Homo sapiens: one gene and its partners. The protein of the gene in region 7 purifies or fractionates together with the protein of the main gene of each other region. This does not show direct contact. Each region holds a gene or a part of one and is shown on either strand. Other genes may lie near its edges. The genes, in order: PRR4, CP, GC, DMBT1, PIGR, NUCB1 and DDX31.

Region 1 (4,294 bases), on a different chromosome or scaffold from region 7:
CTGGCGGAAACCTGAGAGAAACCTGAGATGGAGAGTCCTTGGGTTTGAGAAGGCAGACTCAAAGACAGGAGGCAGAGCACCAAAGGGAGAGCACACCCCACTTCCTCATTACCAACTCATTTTAATGAGACAAGTCATCTTAAGAAAAAAGTTGGGGAGGTCAGTATTTCAAAAGATAAGAATTCTTTGAACCACTTGTTAAAAATACAAGGACTTGCAACCTTATCCAAGAATATCTGAATACAAATCTTTAGAAATGGGGTCCAGGATTATGTAATTTCAACATATTTCCAATTGATTTGTGAACACGATAAAGTTTGGGAATGGTAGCAGTTTGGGCATTTAATGGAGAATGAACTGGAATCATACCTGCCACTGAATTCTAGATTACCAGAGTGGTTGCTCCTGGGGATGTCTTGCTGGTCTGTCCCTCTGGAAGAATGATGATGCTTCCTGCAGGCTGACAGAAGGAAATCGGGGTAGAGAGAGTTGACGGTGTCCTCGTCGGGGTGGTCGTTGCTGATTTTGAAAAGGAGGTGGGGGAGGATGGCGGTGATGGCCTCCTGGTTTTGGTGGTCTCTGCTGAGGACCATCATCTTGGTTACCACTATCACCAGGGGGTCTAGGTAGGAGTCCTTCAGGAGGAGGTCTCTGGGGTCCCTGATCTGGTCTCTGACTTGAGTCCTCTACATCTGTGTGAGTAATTAATGGACAAGAATGCATGAGCTCAGTGAAGAAAAACTCTCCTCTCTTTATACTTCTCTCACCTTACCACACAGCCCTGTTCTCCCCAAACCTGCTGCTTGACTGTCAACTTCTTTTGTGCCCACTGTTTTTTTTTTCTTTTTATGCAGCTCTCAACTTAATCCATGTAAGAGTGATATGGAAAGTCTCATTTATTTGCTCCTGTGACAAGTATGTTTCCTTAAATGAAAAGAGGGGTTCTTGCATATCTTAGAGTTGCCAGAGGATGTCTCCAAGGACAGAAAAAAAAAAAAAAGCAAAAGCATTATAGCTTTCAGTTATGTTACTGGTTATTTTTTATTTTTATTTTTTGGTTGCTGTAATGACTTACAAACTGTGACTCCATCTCTGGGCACCTAAGCCCTATGTGGAAACTAGAGCTGATTTCCCAGGCTCCTGGAACCAAGTAGAGAAATACTAAGAGACAGAAGAGAAAGACAATGTGAAAGCCTGCACATGATCACTAAACAGCTGTGGCAACTATTTATCATCTGTAGTGACACAGCTGAGTGGGTCAACACAGAGAAAAGACATTCATGCAGTGATTTTTTTGTTTTGTTTTGTGTTACTCCCTGAAGCCACATAACCGTGCGGGGGAACACTGGGGGAAGAAAGAAGCAGTTAAGGATGGAGGAGTCAGAATGAGAACACTTCTCATTTGTTCATCATCTCTCAGCAGTCATTCCAGCCTGGGAAAAAAGCCTGCCCACTCCTATTGTCCTCAAAGCCAGGCATCTCTGTATTCAAGTTGGTGGCCTGGCTCATGGTCCCCAGAATCAAAGATGGGTAAGAATTGCCTATATATTTAGGGGCACTAATATTAATCAATGCCTGACCCCTCTTACCACCTCCTCCCAAAAAAATGATGAGAAGAAGACACTGAAGGAAACTAAAAAGAAATTCTAGTGGAAAAAGAAAGAAAAGAATTGGATTGAGGATCATTGGGATTTACCTGGTATGGTGAAAGTAAAGTCTTCATAGTTCACATCTAGGAAAAGAAGCACAGGATGAAGTGAACATTACCTCATAAATCTTTCAGGGCTCATAGTGGTCTATAGGGAAAGGGGTCTTCTGGCCACACCCTGTGCATCCCCTAAGTTACCTCATCAACCATGTTCTGTGAAGCTGCTGGAAGGGGAGGAAGATGTTAGGGGAGGCAGGATTGTTACTATCGCTGAGCATCAACCACGAATTCAATAGAAGAGTCCCTTTTTGTCATCCTTAGGATCCCTCAAACCCTAATGCTAATTTAGGCACACTTCTCTGGGTATTTTCATGTCATATTTTAGATCTTTACCTTCTTCCTTCTTTAAATATTTTGATCATATTCACAAGCTTGCCCAAGAGGAGCAACCAGGAGTAAATATTTGGATATAATCTTACACATGCTGCCTGCAACATATTGAAATTTTAAATGTGATTGGAAGAAAAATGGGAATTTGGGGACCTGATATTTCTATACCACTATGTAGAAAGACACAAATGTATTATCCAGTCCTCTATGTCTGACAGTACTCTGATGTTTGTTTATCTCTTTCATTGATTCTGCATCCCCTGTACAGCAAGGACACCATCATCGCTGTCCACTGAGATTACTGTAGCATCTTCATAGCTGGACTTCCCTGGATCAGTCTTGCATTCTCCACTGCATCCTTCACAGCACAGCCAGGTCTTTCTAAAAATACAAATCTTACTTTGTCATTCCTCTAATTGAAATTCTCTATTGGGTTCCAAGTGTATATCAAATAAAGTATAAGGCCTTGGCATGGAATGAGGGCACAACAGATGTCATCCTTGGAATGAGAGCTCCAAAGCCCTACCCTTCTTCTCAACCTCCTTCCTCCCCTCCTGCTCTTCCGCTGCAGTGGTGTAGGGTGAACCCCTGAGGCCCTAGAAGAGTCATGGCCCCTCATCCCACTCCCCATCTCCTTTTTTAAAAAAATAATTTTTTTACCATTATCTGTGCTCTGAGCTGAGCTCAGAGCCAGAAGGACCACTGAGAGCAGGACCAGCAGCATCTTGAAGGAGGCTCTGGAGTTGCTCCCAACTCTGCGTTGAGAGAAACATGGCAGCTCCCTTTATAAACATGAGCAGAACAATGGCACCTTTGAGCTCCATACTGGGTGGACCTCACCACCTGAAAGATTAGGTTTTGCTTTCCTCTCATAAAGTTGAATGCGTCTCTTATTACTTTTTGGGATTTTAGCCCAGCAGGATGTGGTGGTAGGATGTGGTTAGGTACAAACTGTGACTTGAGCATAGTTTCTGAAGAAACAGTATCCAAGCAATCAGCACAAATACTACAATTGAAGTTTGGTCATCATTTGATTTTCAATTGGGTTAGACAGTTAGTCTTTCCCCTTCATTGGTTGTCTGTGTGCACACGTGCTTACGTTTGTATATGTTTGTCAGCAGTGATCTTATAGCCAGAAGTGAAAATGATTAATATCTCTAGCTATTAGTGTAGCATAAATTCCATTTTTATAGCATATATACCTATATGGATGATATGTAGCTTAATTTCATAATAATATAGAGATCATTTCTGTTTAATGTTGAGTTGTGTGAGGACAACACACACTTGGGCACACGTGGATGACAGAAGTTTTACCCTCAGGCTACTCTGGCCCAAAGAGATTAAGATTCTCCTAATCTAGCATTAACCAGAGATACTTTATTGTTGTAGAACACAGGTATTAAAACATTCTATCTTTATTAATACCCTGGAGGTTAGTAAGGCAAAATTGGCCACAGAAAGCACCATTAGATTTCTGCATCAGAACAGTGTGAATACACAGTTCCTTGAACAAGCCATGCTATTTTATGTCCCTAAGACTTCTTCCATGATCTTTCTCTTTTCTAGAATGTTCTATATGATTCAGTTTAGGTCTTACTTCTTGTACCAAATATTTTAATCACACTGGTTATTGAGTGGACACAATAATACAATCTAATTAGATAGTATGATAGCCTGTTGAAAGCCTCAAGTATTACATTGATTTTCTATTTTTTAATTAGTTTCCATTCTATTTGCTTCTCAGATTGCCTTTACCAAAGATTATTTTCTCTGCAATATTCTTATACTCATTCTTCTTCACTCTTGTGCTGAACCTTACTTGTTGATATGTTATATTGTGAATCAATCCTCCCTATGTCTATGTTTTATATCTTACTGCTTTCTTCATGCGTTCTGGGAGAAATCTTTATTTGATTTTCTAAACAAGGTTCTGTACTTCTCTTTGCTTGCTTTCTTCTTTTTTGTTTTTAAAATTTGGCACCAAGGTTTTGTGTTTCTGAAAAGTTTGGTAGGGTCCTGAGTTGGTAGCTTAATCTTCACCTGCTGATTTTTCTGTCCTATCTAGTAGTTTTCTGCTTATATTTTCATGGAACCCCTAGATCAATCAGTATCACCAGCTGCCACTTTTCATTACAGGCATTGTATAGGTCTCGTATTATTGTTACATTTTTGTACAGGGCTGGTGATAATTTGAGGATAGCTTGGTTGGAAGTATGACAGGGTCGGGGGAATGTGACTGGAAATCTTAAAGAC
Region 2 (4,010 bases), on a different chromosome or scaffold from region 7:
GGACAAAGAAGGGACCAAAAGGTTGCTATCTGCACACATCTATGCAAAAAGTTTAGCATAGTATTGGCAAAATTGCTGAAGCTGTATTCAAAATTCACTGGTAAGATATATGGGGGAAAAAAATCACAGAGAAAGCAGTCCCACCTAGAGTTTGCAAAACTGTAGCATATTGTTGAAGCCAGAGGAGATGTTAAAGTCACAGGACAATAACAAAAAGAGAGGTGGACTTTGCAACTAGAAGATGCTCCATTTTTCCTTTTAAGGAGCCTTAAGTATCTCTATTAAGTATACTTTTTAAGTAACTGATATGGTTTGGCTGTGTCCCCACCCAAATCTCACCTTGAATTGTAATAATCCCCACATGTCAAGGGAGGGGGCCAGGTGGAGGTAACTGAATCATGGATGTGGTTTCCCCCATATTGTTCTCATGGTAGTGAATAAGTCTCATGAGATCTGATGGTTTTATAAATGAGAGTTCCCCTGCACAAGCTCTTTCTTGGCTGCTGCCATGTAAGACGTGCCTTTGCTCCTCCTTTGCCTTCTGCCATGATTGTGAGGCCTTCCCAGCCATGTGGAACTGTAAGTTCATTAAACCTCTTTTTCTTTATAAATTACCCAGTCTTGAGTATGTCTTTATTAGCAGTGTAAGAACAGACTAATACAGTAAATTGGTACCTGGAGTGGGGCACTACTGTAAAGGTACCCAAAAATGTGAAAGTGACTTTGGAATTGGGTAGCAGGCAGAGGCTGGAATAGTTTGGAGGGCTCAGAAGAAGATAGCAAGATGTGGGAAAGTTTGGAACTTCCTAGAGACTTGGAGGGCTCAGATGACAGGAAGGTATGGGAAAGTTTGCAATGTAAGACATGCCTTTGCTCCTCCTTTGCCTTCCACCATGATTGTGAGGCCTCCCCAGTCATGTGGAACTGTGAGTCCATTAAACCTCTTTTTCTTTATAAATTACTCAGTCTTGAGTATGTCTCTATTAGCAGCATAAGAAGAGACTAATATAGTCACAATGGGGTAAACAGGCTTATACTCATTGGGTAGCTTCCCTGGCACAGACAGGCCACAGGAGTAATTAAAAACAAAGGAATTTCCTCCGCCCCCATTCACCAAATTCTAAACAAACTCCTTCACTCTTCTACTCCCTGATTTTTAGAATTAAAGATTTTTTTTTGAAGCATATTCAGGGCAATGTCTTGCACTTAGTTTATGCCTGATAAAGCTGATTTGATTTTTGATCACGAACAATGGCAGAGTGGTGGTGAGTGGGGGCATAGAGAAGGATAGTATTTTTATTTTTTTAATGTGTCTGACTTTTTCCTTGGAAATAAAAACCACATATAATTTATATTATATTTAATCAAGAAAATACTGAATCCATGCAAAATAATGTTTCTGGTGAAGCTGTAAAAATATGTCATATTCCTTAGAAGATAATACCACCTTAAAACCAGGTTAAAAAAGAAATAATTACAAGATGTATTAGTTTTATTTACAACCACTTATCTTCAGGTCAGAAACTTTCTTTATTGTATATTATTAAATTCATAATATAATAATTGGATATTAGTATCTGTTATGTATTTATTTTTATGGTGAAAAATTTCAACTTTACATAATGTTAAAGAAAATAGTATATACTCATCAATAAGATTCAATAATTACAAACTTCGGCATCCTTATTTAGCTGTTTTTTAAAGATATAATCTTGGCAGCTGATGGTCATTGGGCTTGTTTGTGTTTTATTACCACTGAAATACATTTTAATGTAGTGAATATTGATTTTGAATTCCAAGTTCCCATTTGGTGGTTAATGTTTAATTAACATCATTAAAAGTGAAGACCTCAGTATAGATAAACTTCTGTACAAAAAACTTCAAGGAGAACTAAACTTTTTGTTTTACTGTGTAGTGAATATTGCTTTCAATAAGGGGATTTTCCAACTGAAAAATGAAGACATTTAAGTTACATGGAGCTTTTTGAGGACCATCCTAATAAGTACCTGACATTTTTTTATGCACATATGTGCCAAGCATTGTACTAAGAGCTTTACATGCACCCGCTCTTTAAATAACCCTATGAGCTATGCTTATTATCCTCATTTTACAAATTAGGACCCTGAAGCTGTGAAAGATTAACCTACTTAACTGTCTGGAGTCTCTCAATAAATATCAGGCAGGATCTTATTTGCTAAAATTGTATTTTATTTCTATAAGTGATGTTTTGAAAGATATAAAAAAATTTTATGCCTATCATGAATAACCATTAAATGGTGCAATAAACATAACATTGTATACAGTAATTGTTTAAATGAAAGAACTTCTGCATAAACACATAAAAAGACAGATTCCTAATCGGAGATGCAGTTACGACCATGGGAGGTAGTAAGATGTGAACACAGATCCCCAGGAACAACAGGAAAGAAGCAGGGTAGTCCACCAAATAAAAAATATACAGGAATATAAAGGAGATTGATTCAAGTGTCTTGGGTTTCAAGCCCACATTTTGCAGTTTCTGTATATAAGAAATTTTAAAAATATTTCATCTTATTGGCTCTATCCTTTAAAAATAACTTAAAATTTTGGTCTATAAACAATAAAAATAGTGACTTACGTGTCAACAGAAATAAGTTTCTTTTCCCCATGGTCAGAGGCATAATCCCAAGTCGTTTCAATAATTCCAATGTAATAATGCTTTTCTTTCGCCCAGGCTGGGGTACTACATAAAAACAGAAAAATACCAAGTATCAAAATCTTCATTTTTTTCCCCTTCTTGGAGCCTGAGAAGAAATGAAGTAAAATCAGGAGCAGGCAATTTTATAAATAAGACTTTCTTCCTTATTTGCTTGATTGACACAATTTAGTGTTGCACAAGAGTAAATTGTTTCATTAAAGCAAATATTTTCCAATTCAGTTAAGTTCTCGTAAACCACCAAAAAAACAGTTCTTGGTTGCCAGGCTTCTCTGACTGAAAATAAAAAGTCAACAGTTATTGTTGGAGGCATTAGGGTGTGCATAACTCTGTGCCTTTTTCCATTCATTGTGTAAATTCCAGGAGGGCAGAGAACGTGTCTAAATGCTCCCTTTGTTCCTCTGACAATATGTCACAGCACAGTGTCCTGCAAACAGTGCACTTTTAGTAAATCAGGATAAGAATTATGTAAAATGAATCAAAACATGTAGCTTTTTACTACAGTCATTCTTAATGACAGGGATACGTTCTGAGAAATGCATTGTTAGGCTATTTTGTCATTGTGTGACTATCACAGAGTGTACTTACACAGACTTATATGATATAGCCTACTATACATCTAGGTAGGCTATATGGTATACCTATTGCTCCTAGGCTACAAACCTGTACAGTCTATAACTATGCTGAATGCTATAGACAATTGTAACACAATGATATTTCTGTATCTATACATATGCAAACATAGAAAATGTACAGTAAAAATATGTTATTATAATCTTATGGGACCACCATCACATATGCAGTTTGTCATTTACTCAAACATTATTATGTGGTGCATGACTATTTCTAAAAGTCTAACAAATGATTAATTGCAGCTTTATGATATGAAACATGATATCTAGCATGCCAAATTTAAGTAAACAAAAATAAGAATTTAATTTGGAAGAATTTATCTGTTTTATGAGCTTGGACCAAATCTGCATAAAAACTTTACCAGATCATTCTGTATTGCTATATGCAAATAACTAGCAGAGCCTAACAGGGGCTAATAACTTTGTTTTAATCATCAAATAAACAAACCATAACTAAACCTGTCTTCAGAGGCAAAGATTAGTCTTAGTAAATAGAAAGTACCCCAGTTTATCATTAGACTGAAATTTTTCTCTTTGAAGTGGATATGAATTTTAAGGTGGAAGACTTTTTCTTAAAACCCTGTTTTTAGTCAGGAAGTATATGTCTAAAAGTATGAAATGGCTTTTTTTTTTAGCTGAAGAAAATCCTGATAACAGTTGACACTTTGTGTTAGTATAATTTT
Region 3 (4,188 bases), on a different chromosome or scaffold from region 7:
ATGTAAATGACGAGTTAATGGGTGTCAGCAAACCAACATGGCACATGTATACATATGTATCAAACCTGCACATTGTGCACATGTACCCTAGAACTTAAAGTATAACAATAATAAAAAAGAAAACTTGAATCGAAAAAAAAGAAAAGAAAAAAATGCAAAAAAAATATTTTTAGTGCTCTGTTAACAGTGTGTAACTTAAAACTGAGAATTTTTTTGCTGTAGTTTAATTTTAAAAAATCAATTTTTATAAATGTTTCCTGGTCATTAAGGTAACTTTTCTATCTGCAAGTTAAAAAAAAATTTTATAGCTGTATCACCAGTCTTTGTTACTTGGTTTCTTTGGAAGGGAAGAGGGAAAGATATATTGTATATTAGTATTTCATCCATTTCAGTCCTAGGGGAAGAAGCTACTTGTAGGCAACTGGGAAATACTGCCTTGTTGCTTTTCATAGGGTAGCAAAAGTGGACATTTTCTTATGGTACTAACCAGATTTAGCAGATTTGGTAAGCTCTCTTCTCCAAGATGTACCCAGTGGCTTGGGAACAAGATTCCCAATGCTGTTTGATAGGAGAGGGCTGGCTTAATTGGAACCTGTCCAGTAAAGGGTCATCTGTAACAGTATCCATTTTAGACCCAAGGTTTCCAAAGAATAGTTCCACAGGTATAGACATTGTAGAAAAGGGTCAATATGTTTAGATACTCTGAGTTAGATAAGATTTCTTTCCTGTAGTGTTTCTCAGAACCTTTAGGACGACAAAGGCATGAATTGTGAAACCACCAAGAAGGAATAAATTATGGCTCATTTCTTAAATATATTTGGCCACAGAAACTTCTTTTCAAGGTAAGTCTTGAGTGTAATATATTTTGAAACAGGTGCTTAAATAAATGCTGTGGGTGGTCAGCTCTCTAGAACTATAACAGGCAGAGAAAACTGCAATTCAAACCAATCCCCCACAATACAAGGCTACTCAGAACCTAAGAGTTCTCAGAACTCCCTTAATCTGTACACTTTGTAACTTCCTGCCAGGAAGAACACAGCTAGCTTCTAAGTAAACTGCTGACTTGGTCTTTGGGTCATGCTCAGGTATTAGAGAATAGAGAATTGATAGATCAGGACTACTCTCCCCAAATATTGAAAGTTAATGCTTACAAGTGTATTATGTATGTCTCAAGATATCATCTGGCATATGGCACATGGGTTATAAGAATGAAGTTTAGATCTTCTAGGGGACTGACTGGAGGTTTTTAGCATCCATTTCATCAGAATCTGAGGACTGCTGAGAATGTTGAAATATAGATTGCAGAATGCTCTGTTATTCTCCAAAGGACACTTTCATTCTTTGAGGTGAAGCCAATGTGCACCTATTGAGTCAGCAGTCTAAGATGGTGATTCATGCTCCTGCTTATGGCCTCCATATATAATTCCAATTCCTAGCCATTATTGGACCTTCTGTGTTTGAAGACCCTGATCTGAACCTGCTTCAGTAGGATTTTTCAGGATCAGATCTGCCCCAGCAAATCCTTGGCCAAAAGAATAAGACTTAAAGGGATTTCTTGGAACATGGCCTATTCAGAGGTCTTATAAGGGACACAATTTATGTTGCTTTTTTATACCCTATGCTGTCTGGGAAAGACTTTGTAGTCTTACCTAAGGACGCATAGCTTACTTAAGAATTGATGGGTAAGACGAGTTAAAATAATTTGAATGATGAAATAAGACCAAGGAAAAGTAAATGTAAGAAGAAGAATAAAAAGTCAAGAGTAAGGTTATTCATGTTACAGTTAATAACTGATAATTCTTGGGAACACACATTTTATTCCACTGGCAAAACACATTACTATTATGAATAATAATGTACGAATTAGGTGAGGCTGTTAACTGACAGCACTAAATGAAAACCTTAATTTTACAAAGCAGGATAAATGCAGATGTCCCTTGTGAACATTAAAGAATCAGCCAGAAAAGTAAATTGAAGCTAATGATGAAAAGTTTCCCAGCTGTAGAATTCATAAAGTTGTATACTTCCCATAATCTCAGTCTTTATCATGTAAAAAAATTTTTAAACATTGCCCAAAGATGAACACACCATCTGAAGAATAATTTCAATGAAAAATATAACTGAATTATCTTATTTGTGGTTATGTTTCATAGCTATAGAAAAATTTTATGTGAGGGATATTTTTAAAAATACAATGCATTTTCAAATACTGCATGTATAAGATTCCTCTAAGGGGATCAAAGAAATCTCTAAGTTGACATCATGCATCATTGGCATGGTATATTACACTCAATGGTAATAAATATTTGAAGTCTGAATAAATGCTTAATGGTGGATCACAGTCTTTATTTGCATTATCTTGTAACAATTAGCAAATGTCTAATTTTAAATTATTCTCTCTAGGTCTTGCTTATCAACAAAGGAGGAAGAGATAATTGACAAATTATATCATTCCATTTACTTTCTTTAACAAGATTCTTGTGTTGATTTTTTTTGTCAATTCCAATTCAACATTACATGGCATCGTGGAGCTCTGATTAATGCCTCTCTGGTCCTTATCCCTCTCCCCAACATATTCACCAGTTCTTCTGTTTCTTACTTTTTATTTCATTTTTTAAGTGATAATATAAAATTAAACTAGTAAGAATTCCTGTAAATGGTCACAACAAAAGAAATCTTACCTCTCTCTAAAGCATGTCCAAATGCCACAGCAAGCAGTAGTACCAGGACCCTCTTCATTTTTCTACCAGAGAGTCTTGCAGCACCTCCTCTCTCCTGTAGGTGACCATGTAAAAGTGGTAGCCAAAAGTAATTGGTTTCCTTTTTACAAAGATTCCTGACTATGAATTAATCAATTATTAATCTCAGAAGCAACACAGAATTATTATTAAACACAGAAGCAAGGGGCTGTTATCTTTGGCCCAAAAGAGATAAAATAATATCAATCAAGGTAAATAGACACCCTGGGGATACTGTAGTGGAAAATCTAGGAGATTTTAATCATTAACTTTGTCAAACTGCAAAAGAGCCAAGGTATATAGATTATTTTCCACTGCTGTTCCTCACTAAAGTTTACTTAATATGTTAGTAACGCACACCTTCTCCCCCTGTATAGGGCTGTGTGTCTTCTTTGGACACCCCACCTTTCTCATATGTAAGTGGAAAATCGGAAACTCTGTCTTTACCTCTCTTCCTCTCTTTGTTTAAATCTACTACAAATAAGCATTACCTTAAAATATTGCAGACCAGATGTTCTAAGTAAAAGGGGAAAAAGAGTGAGAAGCCAATTCAACATAATATTTTAAATCCATAATTCTGATGCTATGAAGTAATCTTATTTTAGATGATGGCATAGTACTTTGTATTTCTATGCTGTATTGCACTTTGTGAAGCACTGACATATATATGAAAAATAACCTTTGAAGTGAGGCAAATAACTGGAGAGGTTAAATGGCTCACCACTGCCAATCATAAAAAGTTAGTGGCAAATCTTGGACTCCCTACAGTGATTTTAAAGCTCCTTCTACTAATAGTTTACAACTAGTATATTTTATGGGCATGTAATTTGAGAGCTCAGAGAGGCCCTGTAGGACATGAAATCCAACATCTTCATTTTACAGAAGAGTGAACTGAGCACTGGGTAAATTCTGTGACTTGTCTAGAGAGTCATAGGTAGATCATTCATTGGAATTAGATGAGTTCCACTCCTGGTTTTTGCAGTAGCCCTATTTTCAGGAAATGGTCAGGTACAGGTTGTTACACATGCTCTAAAATCAAATCCCTACTCAGCTTTCATAGCTGTGTAACCTTGGGAAATTTATTTTACCCCTCTAAGTTTCATTTTCCTCATATGCAATGTGGTGATAACTCAGTACATTTGACACAACATTGCTATGAGGTTAATTAAGGTAATCTGGGTGCAGGGCTCATGGTAACATCCATCACATAGTAACATGGATTAATGTCACCTATTACTCTTATTCTAGTTATTGCCACGTTCTCCCACTGGCTTTCCAAATTTATAATATCTGTGAAGGTCAATGAAACTAATGAGGCCATTGGAACTCAGTGGAAGAGTTTAAAGACAGCCCTGTGTCCAGGGTCCCGCAGATAAGTGATTTAAAACTTCATTATCAACTCAGTAGCCAAGGATTATCTACATGGGCAGAGTCTATCAAAATTTCAGTA
Region 4 (3,500 bases), on a different chromosome or scaffold from region 7:
CGGGTCAGAGGGTGACACCCTCAATTTTCAGAAACTATATGTGAGTCCGGAATATAAAAGGACCAAAGCTCATTAAACATGGGGCCACTTCCTGAACCTGTAAGGGTTGTCCACTGGGACAGTATGAAACTGTTTCATGAAAGCTGAGAGGGGTTGAAAAGAAGACAGAGGCCTCCTCAATCCTGTGTGTGTTTAAAAAGCGCTGTGCTGGGATCTCAGTTACACAGCCGGTGTTGGGGGTGGAAATAATATGCCCCACAGTATCCACACAGAGAAACAGGAGAGCTCTGTGGAGTGTGGAAGGGGTGATTGGGCAGAAAGAGAAGGGACATTTTGAGGAAGGACACTGGGGACCTACCTGGGCTGGGTGTCGGCCGGGACTGGGGAGCTGTGAGAAAGAGAAGAGAAGGTCAGATCAGGAACATTACACAGAAGTCGGCAAAACTGGAACGAGGAGGGAAAGAAATGAGCGAGTCTGACACTCAGTCCATCCTAGTTCCTATCACACAGGGAGGGACATTGCCATGCACATCCCCACAGAGATGCACCGTGTAAGGGGTCGAGGCAGATCCTGTCCACTATTGCCAGCTCTGAGGTGATCAAATTGTGTCTGCCCAGGGTAACCCGGTTGACCTAAACCAACCCACTCCCTTGCACATCTTAGGTGTTCCTGAGTCAGCAAGGCTGAGGAAGCCACTCCAGCCAAAATCCCTTGTGCGATCTTCAAGCCCCAATCACAGGCAATGACAAGGCCATGTCTGGCTGGCCTCATGGGGACTGCCCTCCCCTCACCAGACCTAGAACACAGGCAATGCTCAGCAGCGTTCTGAGAAGAGCTGAGGTCAAGAACTCCAACCCCACGCAACCCAGGCCTGATACAAACAGACACCCATTTGCACTCCTAACCCTTGAGCCTCTATTTCCAGACCTCCTCACTGGGTCTCAGCTGAGAACCCACTTTTAGCCAAGCATCTTTAGTTCAGAGTTCCTCGCAGTGAGGGGATCCCTCCCCTGCCTTGCTGTCTGTGCTGCATCCATTATACCCTCACACCGTGCTACTCAGCAGGGGAGAAATGGAGCCCTGGGGAGCCGGCACTTTTCTCTTCTGCCTCTTCCTTGCCTTGCCTCAGGAAGGGGAAAAACTCTGGGTTGTTTTAGTTTGATCCCCTGTCCTAAGTGACCACAGGAACACTAGGCAGTGAGTACATATGGATTCTTAGCAGAGAGCTGACAAGTCTTCAGAAACATAGAAAACATAGAAGCTTTGAGTGAGGAGATCAGAATGTAATTAGGAGTTTCTTTTGGAGCAAACTCCACCCCAAGAGAGTGAGCCCAAGTTCTTGAAGGCCCACCTGAGCAGATGACACCAGCGTCTTCACTATGGCCACAGTTGTGGGTGAGCCAGCCATTGTGGGGGCAGCTCCACAGGTAGGACTCATGTCCTGAGCAGCGCACATCATCCAGGACAATGGGTCCTGAGCCCTGGCCAAACTGGGCATTTCCTGGGGCTGACATGGCCCAGCCACAGCCCAGCTGCCTGCAGACCACATTGGCATCATTGGTGTCCCAGTAGTCATCACACACGGTGCCCCAGGAGCCTCGGTATAGGACCTCCACTCGGCCTCGACACCTGTCGCCTCCATTCACCAGCCTCAGGGCCAAACTGGATTCAGATCCTACAGGGGAACACAAGAACCCTTCATCCATCCCTATCATGAGGTCAAGAATCTAAGGTAAGTTCCACACTCAGGGTACTTCCTAATGAACTAAGTCACCTAGGCAGGCAGTCACCTTTGCATATGACCACAGACTAGGCTTCATCACCGTGAAAGTAGCACTGATAACCTACTCTGCCCAGGTCTATGGATGCTCAACTTTTGGGGAAGCACCTGTGACCCCAGTGGATGTGATGGGAATGGATGCCCCACTCCCCAGTTGGGTACACAGAGGATGGAGCTGCTCAGCTCCAGATGGCAGGCCCAGACCCCTCCCTTATTCAGGAGCATGGTCCTATCTGGGATCTGACTGGCAGAGTACCAGAGATGGCAGGGATGAGGTCCCCATAGGATTAGGGAGACCCCCAGGGCTTGTTCTGAGCCCATAGATAAGGATCTTTTCTGACCACTTGGAACAGGATCCCACAGGAGACAGGTCACCAGCACCCTCCACCCTCCAATATCACATCTAATTCTGGGTTTTCAGAGACTCCAGCTTCCTCCCTACCCAACCCACAGAAACATGAAAAAGCAAGGGGCCCACCTTGAGCCTCATCCTATCATGAGCCTAATGATTCCTAATGATCTTCTGGGAGGTCCTGCTCTTGTTCCCAGTGCCGAGCTGACTCTTGAGCCAACTGTTTATCACCTGCTGCCACCCTCCCACGCTTAGCCCACTTCCCCACCTCTCTTTATGGCAATCATAAGTGAACTATGAAATCCAAAGTGTATCCAGAGGTAGAAAGTGAGCCCCAGGGAGTGTTGAGAGGATTCTTTACCTTCTGTGGGTACAGGTGGTGATATCCTGACAGGCCAACTTTCTGTAAACAGCAACAAAGAGAAAGGATACAATTGGACTTGAAGGGAAAAAGGTAAAAAACAAGCGGTTCTCTGGACCAGGCAAGCACTGTGAAAACAATTCCACTCGAAGGTCTGGCCACTTGCTCCCCATGTGTCTGCCCAGGTCTCCTGCCCAGGGAACTCATTCAGGGACAAAGGACACCATGCAGGCCCTTCCACCTCTCTCTGAGAGAGGGATGACCTATTCGCAGTTAGGAAACCTTCACCACCCCCATCCCCCACCATCCACTGACGCGTGGACTGACTGGCTCATCTGACACCACTGCCAAGACTTGACACTTGCAGCTAAAATGTTCGGGATACTAGGGGTCCGCCCTGGGGGAAATCAGGTTTCCTGGTAAGTGAAGGCACCAGAAACATTTCTTAGCCTCTCTCTCCCCTCAGCATGGCCTCTGCCTCTTCTGAATGCAGACGTGGCCCTGCAGAATCTGGGGGTTTTTCAAGTAGTGAGAGATGGGGGTATCAAGCCTGTACTGACCTTGCCTTCAACAGAACATTAGAGGGTCTCACCCTCAATTCTCAGAAAGGTTGTGTCAGCCCTGAATATAAAGAGGCCAAAGCTCATTAAACAGCAGGCTTCTTTCTGAACTTCTAAGAGTTGTTCATTGGGACAGCATGGAACTGTGTGATGAAAGCTGAGATGGACTGAAGAGAAGGCAGAAGCTAAATCCCATGTGTGGTTAAGAAGCCCCATGCTAGGGTCTCAGTTACAGAGTTGGGGGTGAAATAATATGCCCCAGAGTATCTGCAGAGAAGCAGGAGGGCTCTGTGGAGTAGGGAAGGGGTAACTGAGCAGAAAGAGAAGGGGTATCCCGAGGAAGGATTCTGGGGACTCACCTGGCCTGAGTGTTGACTGAGGCTGGGCAGCTGTGAGAAAAAAATAGCAACATTAGACACCAAACACTCAGTGACTCCAAGTAGAGT
Region 5 (3,500 bases), on a different chromosome or scaffold from region 7:
GGGTGGATTGCTTGAGGTCAGTAGCTCAAGACCAGCCTGGCCAACATGGAGAAACCTTGTCTCTACTAAATAGAAACCAAAATTAGCTAGCATGCACCTGTAGTCCCAACTACTTGGGAGGCTGAGGCATGAGAATCGCTTGAACCTGGGAAGCGGAGGTTGCAGTGAGCCGAGATCGTGCCACTGCACACCAGCCTGGGCGACAGAGAGAGACTTTGTCTCAAAACAATAAAAATATATAAAATAAAAAACAAGGGTTATCATAAATTTGTCATTCCCTTGTCCTTGAAATGGTTATCATTAATGAATAACAATTCCAATTTAATCATGATTAAAACAGTCACTTTATTTAATCTCAGCAATTTTCCAGCTGTGATATATGATAAATTATCAACACAGGGCCTACGTGTCAGGTAGAAAACCACATCTACTCATAGTGGGTTATCTGGAACAGGCTTTACCTCCCAAGGGCCTCAGAAAGCCTCTCTCTTCTGTTCCCACAGCCATCTCCACGAAGAGTCCCATATTTGGTCCCGAGGAGGTGAATAGTGTGGAAGGTAACTCAGTGTCCATCACGTGCTACTACCCACCCACCTCTGTCAACCGGCACACCCGGAAGTACTGGTGCCGGCAGGGAGCTAGAGGTGGCTGCATAACCCTCATCTCCTCGGAGGGCTACGTCTCCAGCAAATATGCAGGCAGGGCTAACCTCACCAACTTCCCGGAGAACGGCACATTTGTGGTGAACATTGCCCAGCTGAGCCAGGATGACTCCGGGCGCTACAAGTGTGGCCTGGGCATCAATAGCCGAGGCCTGTCCTTTGATGTCAGCCTGGAGGTCAGCCAGGGTAAGGATCCAAGCTCCTTGGGCTTCTGGGGGAAAGTTAGAGGGAATTCTCTAAGGTGCATGGAGGGCTTGAGGAGGAACTTCCTGACAAGGATGTGTAGCCGGGTTGGGGGTCAGAAGGCACCCCTTTCCCCAGGCAAAGACTTCTTTAACAGGAGAAGGAGACAGATAGGGCCTACTTGGGGGTGATGAGTGAACCCTTCTAGGACTTGGTGGCCTATAACATTTTAGGCTTTCTGGAGACCCCAGCTTAGAAGGGTATCAGAAGGACAAGTTTTCTGGTGTTTGCTACAGGTAGAAAGGGAAATCTGACATCAGGCTAAGGAGATAGAAAAGGTAGGGAGAGATTTACAGGGATCCTTAAATTCCTATCATTAATGCACCTTTCCATCAAGGTTTGGGCCGCCAAAAGGCTTCTTGTAAAATGCATATTTTTTTTTTAACCTGGGAACCCTTAGTCTTTTGGTATTATCAGGGTAAATTAGATTATTAGATCTTGACCAAAGACCAAGATCCTGAAAGGATGGGTTGCTAACAAGCCTATTCTAGTTGGAGAAAGAGAAAAAAAGAAAAGCTCTTTCTGACAAGGGTTTAACAATGAGGCTGTTTTAGATAGTCAAGGGCAACTCAAAAGAGAGGTCTACGGAGAAAAGAAATTCAGGGGGACTCCCAAAGACATGTCTTGCTCCTTTGGAATATGCATACTATTGTCTGTGGACTAAATGAGGAGGTCATTTAGGTGGGGATCAAGATTCAAAACCACAGAATCTTTAGAGGTGAAGAGGGCTTAGAGTTCACCCTAACCGGACACTTAGAAGAACATGCTGATGACGGGTATGCAGCCTCTGATTAAGCACTTTAGCAGAAACTCACTGCTCCCTGAGACAGCCCATTTCACATTTAGACTCTTGTAATTTTTAGAAACTTCTATTGTATGCGTTGAAATCCATCACCCTGCATTTACATTCATTCTGTTCATTTCAGCACACATTAATTTGGCCACCTACTACCCAGAGGCATTGTGCTTGTCACAGCAGAGGGGTCAAACATGAGAAAAACATGTTCCAGCCTTCAAGGAACTTCCAGTCCATGGAGAACATAATTACCCATACACCAGATTGGATGTAATAAGTGATGCAGATGTATCAAGAAAGCACAGGGCAGGGAGAGATTAGTGTTAGCTTGGGAAAGGTTTCATGGAGAAGACCGCTGTCAAGCTGGGCCTTCCGACAGCATTCCTCTGGGAAGGAGGGCATTCCAGGTTATAAGTCCACCCACACCCTAACTAGGAATAGCAAATAGTCCTATGTTGCAAGAAAGTAGAATCGTAACTTGCCTGCCCCCTACCTTGCACCCCTCATCCTGCAGGTCCTGGGCTCCTAAATGACACTAAAGTCTACACAGTGGACCTGGGCAGAACGGTGACCATCAACTGCCCTTTCAAGACTGAGAATGCTCAAAAGAGGAAGTCCTTGTACAAGCAGATAGGCCTGTACCCTGTGCTGGTCATCGACTCCAGTGGTTATGTAAATCCCAACTATACAGGAAGAATACGCCTTGATATTCAGGGTACTGGCCAGTTACTGTTCAGCGTTGTCATCAACCAACTCAGGCTCAGCGATGCTGGGCAGTATCTCTGCCAGGCTGGGGATGATTCCAATAGTAATAAGAAGAATGCTGACCTCCAAGTGCTAAAGCCCGAGCCCGAGCTGGTTTATGAAGACCTGAGGGGCTCAGTGACCTTCCACTGTGCCCTGGGCCCTGAGGTGGCAAACGTGGCCAAATTTCTGTGCCGACAGAGCAGTGGGGAAAACTGTGACGTGGTCGTCAACACCCTGGGGAAGAGGGCCCCAGCCTTTGAGGGCAGGATCCTGCTCAACCCCCAGGACAAGGATGGCTCATTCAGTGTGGTGATCACAGGCCTGAGGAAGGAGGATGCAGGGCGCTACCTGTGTGGAGCCCATTCGGATGGTCAGCTGCAGGAAGGCTCGCCTATCCAGGCCTGGCAACTCTTCGTCAATGAGGGTAAGACCCTAGAGAGGGAGGGGGAGTAGGTGGGGCAGTCTCGCAGGTGAGAGCCAAGCTCAGCTCCCTCTGAGTGTATTCATCAATAGTCATCAATCAGCCAACAGCATCCACTCAATGACCAGCCCCGAACTGGAGGCTGCGTGGGCTGCTGCACAGGACAGCAAGAAAAAGCAACCTCTGCCTGATGGCAGCTCCTAATTACTCTTCTGTTATCAAAGTCATTTTGATGGCTGTCCCTGCTTAACAAGCAAGAGGTGAGTAAAGCTCTTGATTGAGGCAGGACTTATAGACTGTGTTTCAGGGCTGTGGCAGGCTCTGCAGGGGTCCTCTGTCCCCTCCCCTGGCCCCTGAACAAGATGGGTGCCTCATCCCTCACATTCAGATGGAAAAAGGATTGGCTTATCTTGGTCTCAATGCGTTCCCAGGAGTGCCCCAGCCTCTAAATGTTTCACTGTCACATTTCGTAGGGTTATTTGTGAATTTCAGCACCATCTGGCCCACTCAGCCCTACTCCAGTGAGCCATCAGCATGGTGAAAGAATTAAATCCCAGCTCCTTCTCATCCCAGAGCACCCTGCATAGAGTTGCCCTCGTGAGAAGCAGCAAACCAGTACTTGCAGTTCCAA
Region 6 (3,500 bases), on a different chromosome or scaffold from region 7:
AAGATCAAGAGATTGAGACCATCCTGGCCAACATGGTGAAACCCCATCTCTAATAAAAACATAAAAAATTAGCTGGGCATGGTGGTGCGCACCTGTAGCCCCAGCTACTTGGGAGGCTGAGGCAGGGGAATCACTGGAACCTGGGAGGCGGAGGTTGCAGTGAGCCGAGATCACGCCACTGCACCAGCCTGGTGACAGAGTGAGACTCCGTCTGAAAAATAAATAAATAAAATAAATACATACATACAAACAAAAGAAAAACATCAAAATTTTTGATAAAGCATCAACCAATCTTAGGGGTTAAATTGCACGCTCCTAAGTTTCTATGTTGAAGTCCTAAGCCCCAGTACCTCAGAATGTGACCTGATTTGGAGACTAGGTCTTTACAGAGGGAATCAGGTTAAGATGAGGTCATTACTGTGGGCCCTAATCCAACATGATTGGTGACCTTATAAAAGGCAGAAATTTATGACTGGGCACAGTGGCTCATGCCTGTAATCCCAGCACTTTGGGAGACTGAGGTGGGAGGATCACTTGGGCTCAGGCATTCGAGACCAGCGTGGGCAACATGGTGAAACCCCATCTCTACAAAAAATATAAAAATTAGCTGTGTGCAGTGGTGTGTGCCTGTAGTCCCAGCTGCTCAGGAGGCTAAGGCAGGAGAATCACTTGAGCGTGGGAGGGGGAGGATGCAGTGAGCCGAGATCGCACCACTGCACTCTAGCCTGGAGGATAGAAGTGAAACCCTGTCTCAAAATAATAATAGGCCGGGCGCGGTGGCTCACACCTGTAATCCTAGCACTTTGGGAGGCCAAGGCGGGTGGATCACCTGAGGTCAGGAATTCGAAACCAGCCTGCCCAACATGGCAAAACTCCATCTGTACTAAAAATACAAAATTATCCAGGCGTGGTGGCGCGTGCTTGTAATCCCAGCTACTTAGGAGTCTGAGGCAGGAGAATCGCTTGAACCTGGGAGGCAGAGGTTGCAGTGAGCTGAGATCGCGCCACCGCACTCCAGCCTGGGCAACGAGAGCAAAACTCTGTCTTGGAAAAAAAAAAAAATAATAATAATAATAATTAATAAAAAATAATAATGGAAGGAGAAATTTGGGCCAGGCACACAGAGAGGAAAGATGGTGTGAAAATGCAGTGAGAAGACGGCCATCTGCAAGCCAAGGAGAGGGGCCTGGTACAGATCCTCCCTCATAGCCCCAGAAGGAACCAACCCTGCCAATACTTTCACTTTGGACTCTGACTGCAGGCCATGAGACAGTCAAGTTCTGTTGCTGAAGCACCTGGTCAGTGGTACTTGGTTACAGCGGCCTCAGCAAACAAGTGCAGCCTCCCTCATATGGGAGTTTCCAAGTAGTCAGGAAGGGGTAGGGTTTCCAGGCAGGAAAGGACAGCGCACACGCTGCCAACACACACTTACCGCACGCATGTCTCCCGAGGCTTCTAGGGGCCCAGGCCTGCGCTGTGCAATGCTGGACCCAAAATGAATCAGCCTGGCCCTGGCCTCCAGTGGCCCTTGGTTAGGTGGGGAGAAAGACACACACACACACACACACACACACACACACACACACACACCCCTTGGTCAAGTGGGCAGAAAGACACACACACACACACACACACACACACACACACACACACACACACACACGGGCAGCTAGAATTTGGGAGACCTAGGCTGCAGTGGAGGCAGCTCCGGCCCTGGCTGAGCCCAGAGGAGTGACAGGTGTGCAGGACACAGGTACAAACTGAATCTCAAATTCATTATTTGTGCCAGGGACGTGTGTTGAGCCGCTATTCCAGGCTGACCCAGCGCCGGCCGCTATGGACACAGCAGGAATCAAATGATGACAGAATTCTGACTCTTGGAGGCCAGGCGGGGTGGCTCATGCCTGTAATCTCAGCAATTTGGGAGGCTGAGGCGGGTGGATCACCTGAGGTCAGGAGTTTGAGACCAGCCTGGCCAACATGGTGAAACCCTGTCTCTACTAAAGATACAAAATTAGCCAGGTATGGTGGCGGGCACCTGTAATCCCAGATACTCAGGAGGCTGAGGCAGGAGAATCGCTTGAACCTGGGAGGCAGAGGTTGCAGTGAGCCGAGATCGCGCCACTGCACTCCAGCCTGGGCGACAGAGTGAGACTCTGTCTCAAAAACAACAACAACCAAAAGAGTTCTGCCTCTTGGAGCACCCAGTCTAGAGAGACAGAGAACAGGCGACCAAGGGATGAACAAAGGAATACCAAGGACACAAATAACACAGAGGCTCCTTCACACAGGACAGCCGGGGCGGTGACACCCTGAGGAGGTGACATTCCAGGGGAGATGGAAGGTCCATGGACCAGGCAAAGAGCCCTGAGAAAGAATGTCACGGGAGAGCGGGGCGAACGGACAAAGGTCCCAAGGCTGCACGCCAGCAATTTCTAAAAATGCTGACGCAAGAAGGTCAGGGTGCATACGGGAAGGGCAGGGTTGGGCGGGTGTGGCCAAGGTCCACCCAGGCTCCGAGCAGACAAGAGGAACATGAATGCGGGCCTGAGGGCACTGGGGTGCCGGGGGCAGGCTCTGGGCAGAGGAGGGACGGGAAGAGCCTGGGTGTTGTGGCAGCTGGATACTGGTGCCCTAAAAGATATCCACATCCTGATCCCCGGAACCTGTGAATGCGTGACCTTTCCGGGCTAAGGGGTCCTGGCGGATGGGATTACATTAAAGACCTTAAGATGGGGGCCAAGGCTGGTGGCTCAGGCCTGTAATCCCAGCACTTTGGAAGGCCGAGACAGGAGGATCACTTGAAGTCAGGAGTTCAAGACCAGCCTGGCCAACATGGCAAAATCAAGTATCTACTAAAAATACAAAATTAGCCAGGTGTGGTGGCACACACCTGTAATCCCAGCTACTTGGGAGGCTGAGGCAGGAGAATTGCTTGAACCCAGGAGGCGGAGGTTGCAGTGAGCCGAGATCGCGCCACTGTAGTGCAGCCTGGGAGACAGAGCAAGATTCTGTCTCACCAAAAAAAAAAAAAAAAAAGGCCAGGCGCGGTGGCTCACACCTGTAATCCCAGCACTTTGGGAGGCCGAGGTGGGCGGATCACGAGGTTAGAGATCAAGACCATCCTGGCTAATACAGTGAAATTCCGTCTCTACTAAAAATACAAAAAATTAGCTGGGCATGGTGGCGGGCGCCTGTAGTCCCAGCTACTTGGGAGGCTGAGGCACAAGAATGGCGTGAATCCAGGAGGCGGAGCTTGCAGTGAGCCGAGATTGCACCACTGCACTCCAGCCTGGGTGACAGAGCGAGACTCTGTCTCAAAAAAAAAAAAAGAAAGATATTAGCTGAGCAAGGAAAAACAGTGTGACCTGATAAATCTCCCGATTTTATCGCTGTACTTATGCAAGAGTATCACACTGAAATGTGTAAGGGTGATGAGATGGTGACTGTGGTGAAGTCCCAAACGTGAGTGACAAAGCAAATGGAGCAAATGTTAACTA
Region 7 (3,500 bases):
CCTGAAAATGGTGAGGCAAACCAGAGACTGGCCATTCTATTAAACTAATTCTTTTAAAAATGGGACAGGCAGCCGACTGCAGTGGCTCACACCTGTAATCCCTGCACTTTGGGAAGCTGAGGTGGGTGGATCACCTGAGGTAAGGAGTTTGACCAGCCTGGCCAACATGATGAAACCCCATCTCTACTAAAAATACAAAAAATTAGCTGGGAGTGATGGCACGCACTTGTAATCCCAGCTACTCAGGAGGTTGAGGCAGGAGAATCGCTTGAACCTGGGAGGCAGAGATTGTAGTGAGCCAAGATCGCACCACTGCACTCCAGCCTGGGCAACAAGAGCAAAACTCCGTCTCAAAAAAAAAAAAAAAAAGAAAAAGAAACAGGCATGACAACAAATCAGAGTTACCACCAAGTGTATCACACACTCTTGCCCTCACTAACAGGAATATGAAACACAACGAAACATAATGGAAAGGTTTCCATGCAGGATAGCAGGAGGAAGCTCGCCAACTATTCAGAGAGCCAGCAGCAGCTGTCCATTCTCCAGGAAAAGGTTATGGACATGCTGAAATGTGTGTCTACACATGTATTTTAAAACAAGAAACAAAAGAGACACAAAAATCACTTAAATTTGGTTGATAAAAAACTTGTGGGGAGGTCCCTTAATTTGGACTTTAATATTCCTATTAATTTTTACTAGTAAAAGTAAAAAATCATTATGAAAATGCACAGAAGCACAAATACTCAAAACAAGGAAGCTCATCTCCTCGCACCTATTTTACTTCTTTATTTTCCAGGAGTCATTCCCTGTAACAAACATTGAAAACATTTTTTCAGTATCCCACTCTATCCAACTGAACATTTACTCTTGTCTTTTTGGTTGACCCTAATTCTTACTACTAAGAAACGACATGGTCACATGCTATATTTTGGCCAAATTCTTTTCAGGGAAGCACAGAAAACAGCGGCGCTCATGCAGCCCACCTTCTGGATGAGACGTCTCTTGCGGTTCAGAGCCAAGGGCAGAACTGGATGGAAAGCCAGTCTTTCCATTTAACAGGTGGAGAGAATGAGTAGCTAAGTGAGACGACAACCCTTTATGGTCGATAACCTGGCACTGTGTTCCAACGCCAAGACACAAATTTGCTCTGCCTTGCACACACAGGTTTCGTCCGGTTATACCCACGTAATGCCTAAGAAATCAAGAGGAGCCTGAAGTTCTTACCTGGTCATACTAGACATTTTTAAGACCGTATTTATTGTGGAAATCTAAAAGAGGAGATGAAAAAGCTTTAATTAATATTTTGATACAAAATATTTAACGGAAATTACACAAGAAAGGAGAAACTATTGAGAGAACATTGACTACTATGATCAAATTAAGTTCCTCCACCCAGGTGGTGCTCTCTACTTGGGGCGATTCTGCCACCCGCCCTAACTCCCTGGGGACACAGGGCAAAGTCTGGAAAAATTTGTGCTTGTTATAACCAGGGGAGGGGGGCACTGCTGGCATCTAGTGGGTAGAGGCCTGGGATGCTGCTGAACATCCTACAGTGCACAGGACAGTCCCCAAAACTAAGACTGACCTAGTCCAAAATGTCCACAGCACCAAGGCTGAGAAACCCTGATCCACCCCCCAGGTGAGAAAACAAGTTTAGGTAACCCACCCTACAGAAGGGGTAGTAAGCTGTAACCGAAAGTGCAGAGGAAACCAAGCCTGCCTAAAAGTTAATATATTTTTTTCTTCTTACTCATGAGTCTGGAGAACTCACTTTTTTTCCTTTAAAGTGTCCATTTGTTTGTAGAACACACACCAAAATACTCTTCTTCCCTTACTTCTCTAAAACTGTGGACGTCCTTTAACAGCAAGATGCCAGCACAGTTCCCTCTCCTATGGCCACTGTGACATCTGCCACCACAAATGGCTTCACCACTACAACTATCCAGTAAATAGGGAGCTGTTTTAAGTTTAGCAAGTGATGTCCTGACCCTAAATCACGTTAGTCGAGGAAAGTCTTCAATACTTAAAAAAACACACACACAAAAACACAAAAAAACAGAGGATGGGGGAAGGGGGGGCCAGAAAACAGTGAACAGTAACCTAAGCACCCTTGAACTGTCCTAGAAGAGTATCATATCAATCTGAGTTCATTCAGGTAACTTAGAGCAGAAACAAACACTCTCTGATCTCTCCTCCTAGAGCGGCCATTTCACAGACCTTCTGAACGGACAAACACACCAAAAAAAACTGACCCAGAAAACACTGAAAGGTACTTACTAAATGTGGGTGGAGGCCCAGCTCATGAAAAGCAGCTGAAGTAAACACTTTTTCTTGCACCTGCTTTACCACAGGTCTGCAAATGATGAACAAGAACCCAGGCATCAGTGCCAATATTAACAAAGAAAAGGCAGAACACATTTTTTTCTTCCTGAAGGGCATCCGCCCCTGGACATACCTGTGGAGTTCTGGAATGTCAGGGTTGTTTTTAAACAGTGATGAAGTCTTAATGCACTGTCTCTCCTCCTGGTTTCTATCACTTGTGCTAACCGAATGCTTCTTTGGAGAAAACATTTTTTGTGCGTTCCCCTTAAAAGTCCTCTGAGTTTCTTTAACACTAGTTTTCTTGGCTGGGAGAAATGAAGTTTCGTTCCTCCGTTTCGCTGGGGGAGCCTCACTGGACGCTTGGTATTTTCTTTTCGTAGCCTTTGCTTGCTGCGTTGTTCCCAGAAGGAAAGATCAACAAGAGATGCATTAGTCCATGAAAACAGAGCTCGGAGTGAAGCCTGACTGCCCACAGAATTGCATCTCTCCCTGCAGAGATCATTATGCCCCATATGTCAAGCAACAGTTTAGGGTTTGCAATCAGACTCTTTGACTCAGCTTCTTCCAAAAGGTAAAGAAAAGAAAAAAGAAAAAAGTCTCAGCTCACTCATCTACCAGACCTCACCAGCCATTCTTAACTGTTAAATCAATCAAGATAAGGTAAGGATGAAGAAGCAGCATTTTTCCAGTTGAATGTTAACTAATGGAGTCTGTTTTAAGGGAAGCAAGAATCCACCTTGTGAAGGGTGTGTCAATCCATATTCCTAGGAACCCATTCACCCAAGGAGAAAAGAGGGGTGGGGGAAAACGAATCTTTTCTCTCCACCAACAAAGCACACTGGAGACCGCACAGGAGAGAGGGGCGAGGGGGAATGCGCATCTCAGCCCGTGCCCAGGAAGCGGAAACATTCATTACCATTCTACCCTAGCGCCTGGATCTCTCTCATTCTCTCCTCTCAAGCTGCTCCTCCAGATTCAGACGGCCTGGAGAAAATTCCTACGCCCTGTTCCCATTCCAAATGAGAATGCTGCTCCATCCATCACCTCTACCACAATTACTTCCTACCTCCCTTGCCTTTCGAGTCTCTGAGTCCCCGAGTCTCTGCCTGATTGCGGATTACAGGCTACACAGCACTAGGGATCTCTTGCCTGTTGCTTCTTATTTCCATTACAGGAAT

Evidence for each region.
Region 1: the proteins of DDX31 (region 7) and PRR4 purify together in Homo sapiens (affinity purification with mass spectrometry; 2 studies listed by BioGRID and IntAct, with this or other methods). This does not show direct contact.
Region 2: the proteins of DDX31 (region 7) and CP purify together in Homo sapiens (affinity purification with mass spectrometry; 2 studies listed by BioGRID and IntAct, with this or other methods). This does not show direct contact.
Region 3: the proteins of DDX31 (region 7) and GC purify together in Homo sapiens (affinity purification with mass spectrometry; 2 studies listed by BioGRID and IntAct, with this or other methods). This does not show direct contact.
Region 4: the proteins of DDX31 (region 7) and DMBT1 purify together in Homo sapiens (affinity purification with mass spectrometry; 2 studies listed by BioGRID and IntAct, with this or other methods). This does not show direct contact.
Region 5: the proteins of DDX31 (region 7) and PIGR purify together in Homo sapiens (affinity purification with mass spectrometry; 2 studies listed by BioGRID and IntAct, with this or other methods). This does not show direct contact.
Region 6: the proteins of DDX31 (region 7) and NUCB1 purify together in Homo sapiens (affinity purification with mass spectrometry; 2 studies listed by BioGRID and IntAct, with this or other methods). This does not show direct contact.

Annotation. Positions count from the first base shown.
Region 1 is NC_000012.12:10,846,676-10,850,969, forward strand, and holds the start of PRR4 (proline-rich protein 4 isoform 2 precursor), read right to left. Parts: upstream 2,801-4,294; 5' UTR 2,763-2,800; coding exon 2,699-2,762; intron 1,733-2,698; coding exon 1,697-1,732; intron 693-1,696; coding exon 388-692; coding exon of another isoform or gene 370-387; intron 1-369.
Region 2 is NC_000003.12:149,219,030-149,223,039, forward strand, and holds the start of CP (ceruloplasmin precursor), read right to left. Parts: upstream 2,801-4,010; 5' UTR 2,764-2,800; coding exon 2,618-2,763; intron 1-2,617. UniProt on the Homo sapiens protein: Multifunctional blue, copper-binding (6-7 atoms per molecule) glycoprotein. It has ferroxidase activity oxidizing Fe(2+) to Fe(3+) without releasing radical oxygen species. It is involved in iron transport across the cell membrane.
Region 3 is NC_000004.12:71,781,280-71,785,467, forward strand, and holds the start of GC (vitamin D-binding protein isoform 1 precursor), read right to left. Parts: upstream 2,801-4,188; 5' UTR 2,776-2,800; coding exon of another isoform or gene 2,740-2,775; coding exon 2,682-2,739; intron 1-2,681. UniProt on the Homo sapiens protein: Involved in vitamin D transport and storage, scavenging of extracellular G-actin, enhancement of the chemotactic activity of C5 alpha for neutrophils in inflammation and macrophage activation.
Region 4 is NC_000010.11:122,577,754-122,581,253, reverse strand, and holds part of DMBT1 (scavenger receptor cysteine-rich domain-containing protein DMBT1 isoform e precursor), read right to left. Parts: intron 3,444-3,500; coding exon 3,414-3,443; intron 2,537-3,413; coding exon 2,495-2,536; intron 1,677-2,494; coding exon 1,353-1,676; intron 389-1,352; coding exon 359-388; intron 1-358.
Region 5 is NC_000001.11:206,936,467-206,939,966, reverse strand, and holds part of PIGR (polymeric immunoglobulin receptor precursor), read left to right. Parts: intron 1-503; coding exon 504-848; intron 849-2,215; coding exon 2,216-2,872; intron 2,873-3,500.
Region 6 is NC_000019.10:48,906,812-48,910,311, reverse strand, and holds part of NUCB1 (nucleobindin-1 precursor), read right to left. Parts: intron 1-3,500. UniProt on the Homo sapiens protein: Major calcium-binding protein of the Golgi which may have a role in calcium homeostasis. Acts as a non-receptor guanine nucleotide exchange factor which binds to and activates alpha subunits of guanine nucleotide-binding proteins (G proteins).
Region 7 is NC_000009.12:132,659,984-132,663,483, forward strand, and holds part of DDX31 (ATP-dependent DNA helicase DDX31), read right to left. Parts: intron 3,435-3,500; exon of another isoform or gene 3,389-3,434; intron 3,344-3,388; exon of another isoform or gene 3,242-3,343; coding exon of another isoform or gene 3,239-3,241; intron 2,713-3,238; coding exon 2,456-2,712; intron 2,354-2,455; coding exon 2,278-2,353; intron 1,269-2,277; coding exon 1,225-1,268; intron 1,218-1,224; exon of another isoform or gene 984-1,217; intron 1-983. UniProt on the Homo sapiens protein: May have DNA helicase activity and RNA helicase activity. Probably have ssDNA and RNA dependent ATPase activity. Plays a role in ribosome biogenesis and TP53/p53 regulation through its interaction with NPM1.